2 separate regions of the Homo sapiens genome follow, and region 2 is linked to region 1. Evidence: fine-mapped expression QTL. A gene starts in region 1. The other region holds a variant in brackets. All regions are shown on one strand. Distances are from middle to middle. Region 1 holds the start of ADAT2 (adenosine deaminase tRNA specific 2). Region 2 overlaps ZC2HC1B (zinc finger C2HC-type containing 1B).

Region 1 (2,919 bases):
CTGCCTTCCAAAGTTTTGGGATTACAGGCATGAGCCACTGCATCTGGCCATGCTACTTTGTATCTTTTTAAACATGTAGATGTTTTCAAAGAATTTCTAGACCTCTCTGGCTTTGACATTTTTTGTCTCTTAATTGTATTATAAACACCTAGGGATGTGATTCCATAGTTTACGTCCTCCTACACAGGATTAAGGAGGCAGCTGCTTCTTGGGTTTTAGCATATACAAGTTTCTTCAAGGTCTTAAAGGAAAAAAAGTACTTGTTAGGAGGGCTACATGTCACTGGGCAACAGGAACTTTTCAGCTTCATTATAATCCTATAGCACCACCGCTGTATATGTGGTCCTATAAGATTATAATGGAGCTGAAAAGTGCTAGCGAGCTTCTTAACTGGGATAAAAGTTTGTTTGTAAACGTATGTAAATGTATTTACATGTGCTAGCCCAGGGTCAACCTAAAAGGTAGCGAAAGTGTTTAGCCCAGAAGTCTACATAGAAACTAGGGTTGTCTACCTCCATACCACCCTGAATGTCCCCCGATCTCGGAAGCTAAGCAGGGTCAGGCCTGGTTAGTACTTGGATGGGACAATAGGGCTAAGGTGAGTAGATTTAATGCTCCAGGATAACGACCTTTACCGACAGGTCATTGTGTGGCACGTGGCTGTATGTAGTTATTAAAATGTAAATACATATATTTACAAACAAACTTTTTTTCCCAGTTAAGAAGCTCGCTAGCACACAGCATTCTGTTGAAAGCCCCCTTTATTTCGCAGTCCTGAAGGGAGTGAGGGAAGGAAGTAAAAGGGCAGAGGAAATAATGAATGAATGCGAGACGCCGATTGTACAGGGACTTGTTTCCATACTGCTCTCTACCAGAAACGTTCTCAGTTTCCTTCCTTCTGCTGGACATGTTCCAAGGGCCAAAACCTCAAATAATGTGACTTTGTAGATTGGAGAGTGTGTGACCACAGAAAGGAAAGGGAGGCAGCACGTGCCAGCCGGCGACAGAATGTTAAGTCTGCAGCATACTCCACCGCAATGAAACAAATAATTTGTGTATTTCCTCCCCTTCCTTCGCCCAGAGCCACTGTGAGAATGGGCTACAGAAAGTTTCGAGGCAGTAAAGCCAGTTGTTCACCCAGAACATCTGACTGCCATAAAAATTATGGTGACGAGAAAGAACGTTTGCTCAAATGCCGGGGTCGGGTTGAGGGCTGGAGAAAGGTCCCACCCCGCAGCATCTACCTCCCGGGCTCCTCACCATGTGCATCGCCTCCTCCATCCACTTTTCGGTCTCCTCTGCCGACACCGAGCACGCGCCGCTTGCAGCTGGCTTGGGTGCCGCCTTCGCCTCCATACCCAGCCACCACTCAGCTACAGAGCCCGCGGCAGAGGAGGAGCGCGGGCAGCGGAACGCGGCGGGCCCGGGACCCCGTTTCCGGGGGTAGTCTAATGAAAAGGCACTCGGGAGCTATTTCTGAACGGACCTGGGCTTGTCGGACCAGTGAGCGGCGGCGGCTGCGCGGCGGCAGCGGCAGAAAGCGTAGCTGCTTTGCTGTAGTCCACGCCCCCTTGCCGCTCCGGTGACAGTCTCTGCGGAAAGTCACGTTTGTGATTTCGGGAGAGCACAGAACGGGACGACGGCGCTCTTGCTGGGTCATCTGGGCCAGGTGACGAAGAAACAGTTTCCTGGTGAAGCAGTCCCTCACCCCTAGTCAGCCCACACCCCTAGGGCCTAAAGATGCTGAGGTCTGTATGGAATTTTCTGAAACGCCACAAAAAGAAATGCATCTTCCTGGGCACGGTCCTTGGAGGTGGGTGACAACGTGCTTGAAAGGGGGCATTGGGAGAAGGGGGTGGGAGAGGTGACTTCTTCTAAAATAAGGACAGGCCGGGCGATCCTAGTCTGGGATATGTAGAGGGAGTTCGATCAACCATGGGATGAAAAGGGAGGTGGCCAACCTCCAGGGTTCTCCCATCTCTGCAGTTGAGAAATGCCTCTGTGCCCTTTGCCCTGTCACCGACTCTTAACTCTGTTTCTCACCTATCCTTTTTTCTCACGGACCTTTGGAGAACTCATCACAGTTTAAGTTTCTGTTTCAAGGCACCATTCTCTTACAGGAACTTTTTAAAAAAAATTCTGCTTTCCTGTGAGATTCTGCATTTCTCCTTGGCACTCTTGATACTTTGGCTCTCACCCTTCTCAGGAGTTTAATAATAATCTAGGGAAGTTACCTATAGGCTGCACTTCGGGTGGTGGTTAAAGTCGATTTGAATTTTTGAAAACAGCGCAGTTGTCCTAAAGGACTGAAAGATATGGATTAGATAAAGAAAAACAAATCAATATTTTAGCTCTGTTTCTGCCATTTTAGAATACAAACTATGGCAGTAAGAAAAATGCTTGAGGGATGTTGTGCAATCTTCCTCAGGATCTTCAAGGTTGGGATCATTGTAATCTAGCTGACATAACTGAGTTGCACAGGCCCAGAGGAGATTTAGAAACAGATAAGATAAAAATCTTGAGACGCTTTTCCCTCATACAATGCTCATGTGATAATATTCAGGGATTTGAAGGAGGGAATAAAAGTTTTGTGAATTATATGAAAAGGACATCTAGGAACTATAAAAGAGGAAATTTGTTAGAACTTGAGTTTTTGAGAAATAGTCTCATCACTTATTACATGCTATGTTTACAAAAGTACTTAAAATCAAGAACAGAGTTTCCCAAAGAATTTGGTTGGCTTTTCTCTTAGTATTAGATTGTATTCTGTTCTCCCCAAACAATTTGAAATTAACAGTACGTATTAGATTGTATTCTGTTCTCCCCAAACAATTTGCAATTAATACCTTTAGCATCAATAGTTCAGATTTTGGTGATGCTTGAAAGTTTGAAACAGAGTTCTTGTTGCTGAGCCAAGGA
Region 2 (2,919 bases), 420 kb after region 1:
AGATCAGGACACAAAAGGGAGAGCAGGCACTTTATTAGAATATAGCCAAACATGACAAGTGTAGAACAAAATGGGAGCCAGACTTCCTTGAATATACTATCTTGAGATTATGAAGGCAGTGAATATCTTAGTCGTGATAGCCGTCAACACGTCTGTCTCTAATCACACACCTCAAACCTCGACTGGTTGCTCTTTGGTTGTTGTGCCCAGCTATCATACTGGGAATTCCCTTTTCTCTATCCAGTCTATAATTGCCTTTTCCTATATCTCATTCACATGCTTGTGGATCACGTCCTCCAGTAATTCATGAAATGGGGTACAGGGGATGTAGACTTTTTGGGAACTTGGATGTCTGGAAATATATTCTACTCTTATGTTGGATTGACAGCTTGACTGAATATAGAATTCTTGGTTGTAGATTATTTTACCTCAGAAGTTTAAAGGGTTTCTTCCATTTGTTTCCATTTCCAATTTTGCTTTTTGGGAATCTGAAGCCATCCTGATTGCTGATCATTTGTATCTGATTTTTCTTTGGAAGTCTGTAGAATCTGTCTTCACTGTTCTGAAACTTCCATTTTACTGAGTCTTTTAAATCAGAAGGTGTATTAGGGTTCTCTAGAGGGATGGAACTAATAGGCTAGATCTGTATATAAAGGGGAATTTATTAAGTATTAACTCACAATCACAAGGTCCCACAATAGGCCGTCTGCAAGCTGAGGAGCAAGGACAACCAGTACAGTGCCAAAACTGAAGAACTTGGAGTTCAATGTTTGAGGGCAGGAAGCATCCAGCACAGGAGAAAGATGTAGGCTGGGAGGCTAGGCCAGTCTAGTCTTTTCACATTTTTTTTTTCTGCCTGCTTTAGATTCGATCTGCGCTGGCAGGTGACTAGGTGGTGCCCACCCAGATTAAGGATGAGTCTGCCTTCCCCAGCCCACTAACTCAAATGTTAATCTCCTCTGGTAACACCCTCTCAGACACACCCAGGATCAATAACTTTGCATCCTTCTTTCCAATCAGGTTGACACTCAGTATTAACCATCACAAGTCTACCTCTTGTCAACTTCAACCCATACCCATCTCCTGAGATCATACATAATCTTCAAATAAAGACAATAATAAGGTCATAATTATGCCTAACGTAATACAACTATCCTTAATACAACCAGAAATGCACCAATCCCCAACCCAAATACTATTACATAAAGTTAACAATTCTTAAATGCTGATGCGAAGTCAATAAATCTTATGTCACATGATGAAGGAAAAAGTAAATAAAATGAAGATATCTTCTTAGTACACGTGTGTACATGCACAAACATGTTTTTAACAAAAGAAGGAGGAAATACTAATGACAATTACAGTCCTCATTTCTGCAGCTGGTCACGTGGTCATAGCTGGTATTGATGACTACATTCTTCTACTACCCATTCTGTATTCCCTTTTTCTTCAGCAAGCACCTCAGCAGGTCATGGTTTTTTCCTGGTGGAGTGACCCAAACCTTCATTCCTGAAGGGTCTGGGCCATTTGTAGTCCTGCCTGGATTAGGCTGTTGTAGTTTCCCATTGACCTGAATCACAGGACATGGTAATACTAAGAGACACCCTAATAGATCTCCTGTATTCCATGCCTACTCTTCCTTACCTCTGTTGTGGAGTAGTAGAGCATACACGATCTTCTGGAGAACTTTACCCCAGCCCTTCAACGTATTGTCACCTAGTTGTTGTAAT[T/C]GTGACTTCAAAAGGCCATCCCACCGTTATATCAATCCAACTGCTTCAGGATGATGAAGAACATGGTGAGACCAGTGAATTCCATGAGCATGCGCCCACTGCTGCACTTCTTTATCTGTAAAGTGAGTGCCTCTCTCTCTGTAAAGAGAGGCAATGCTGTGTGGAATACCATGACAGTGGATAAGGCATGCTATGAGTCCATGGATGGTAGTCTTGGCAGAAGCATTGCATGGAGGATAGGCAAACCCATATCCAGAGTGAGTGTTTATTCCAGTGAGGAGAAACCTCTGCCTTTTCCATGATGGAAGAGGTTCAATGTAATCAACCTGCCAGCAGGTAGCTGGCTGATCACCCTGAGAAGTGGTGCCATATCGAGGTCTCAGTGTTGGTCTCTGCTGCTGGCAAATTGGGCACTCAGCAGTGGCTGTAGTCAGGTCAGCTTTGGTGAGTGGAAGTCCATGTTGCTGAGTCCATGCATAACCTTCATTCCTGCCACCATGGCCACTTTGTTCATGGGCCCATTGGGCGACAACAGGGGTGGCTGGGGAAAGAGGCTGAGTGGTGTCCACAGAACGGGTCATCCTATCCACTTGATTATTAAAATCCTCCTCTGCTGAGGTCACCAGTTGGTGAGCATTCACATGGGATACAAATATCTTTCCAGTTTTTGACCACTCAGAGAGGTCCATCCACATACCTCTTCCCCAAATTTCTTTGTCACCAATTTTCCAATCATGCTTCTTCCAAGTCCCTGACTATCCAGCCAAACTACTGGCAACAGCCCATGAATCAGTATATAATTGCACATCTGACCATTTCTCCTTTCATGCAAAGTGCACAAGCAAGTGCACTGTTCAAAGTTCTGCCCACTGGGAAAATTTTCCCTCACCACTTTCAGGGATGTCCTAGGAAGGGGCTGTCCTTCAGGGATGTCCTAGAAAGGCAGCTGTCCACTTTTGGGTGGTGCCTCCATATTGTGCAGAACCATCTGTGAACCGGGCTCTAGTCTTCTCTTTTTCTGTCAACTGATCATAGAGAACTCCTCATGAGGCCATTGGTGCAGGCTAGGGGAGAGAAGGCAAGGTGGCAGGAGTCTCCACCTTGGGCATTTGAGCCACTTCCTCATGTAACTTACTTGTGCCTTTAGGACCTGCTTGAGTCCAATCATGTATATACACTTCCATTTGAT

The links.
Region 2: its variant is fine-mapped to the expression of ADAT2 in cerebellum (GTEx, PIP 0.97).

The regions. Positions count from the first base shown.
Region 1 is chr6:143,449,303-143,452,221 of GRCh38, forward strand. It overlaps ADAT2 (adenosine deaminase tRNA specific 2), which reads right to left and starts at 1,393. Exons shown (of 6, transcript NM_182503.3): 1 at 1,261-1,393. The coding sequence starts at 1,356. PEX3 (peroxisomal biogenesis factor 3) reads left to right here and starts at 1,503. Exons shown (of 12, transcript NM_003630.3): 1 at 1,503-1,813. The coding sequence starts at 1,741. It also overlaps the pseudogene RNA5SP221. RefSeq lists enhancers at 399-1,381, 1,184-1,343 and silencers at 424-503, 564-643.
Region 2 is chr6:143,867,625-143,870,543 of GRCh38, forward strand. The region is part of intron 1 of ZC2HC1B (zinc finger C2HC-type containing 1B); the gene reads left to right. Among named protein-coding and RNA genes, the nearest start is that of ZC2HC1B, 4.6 kb to the left of the region's middle. The variant T/C (reference allele first, on the strand shown) is at 1,731.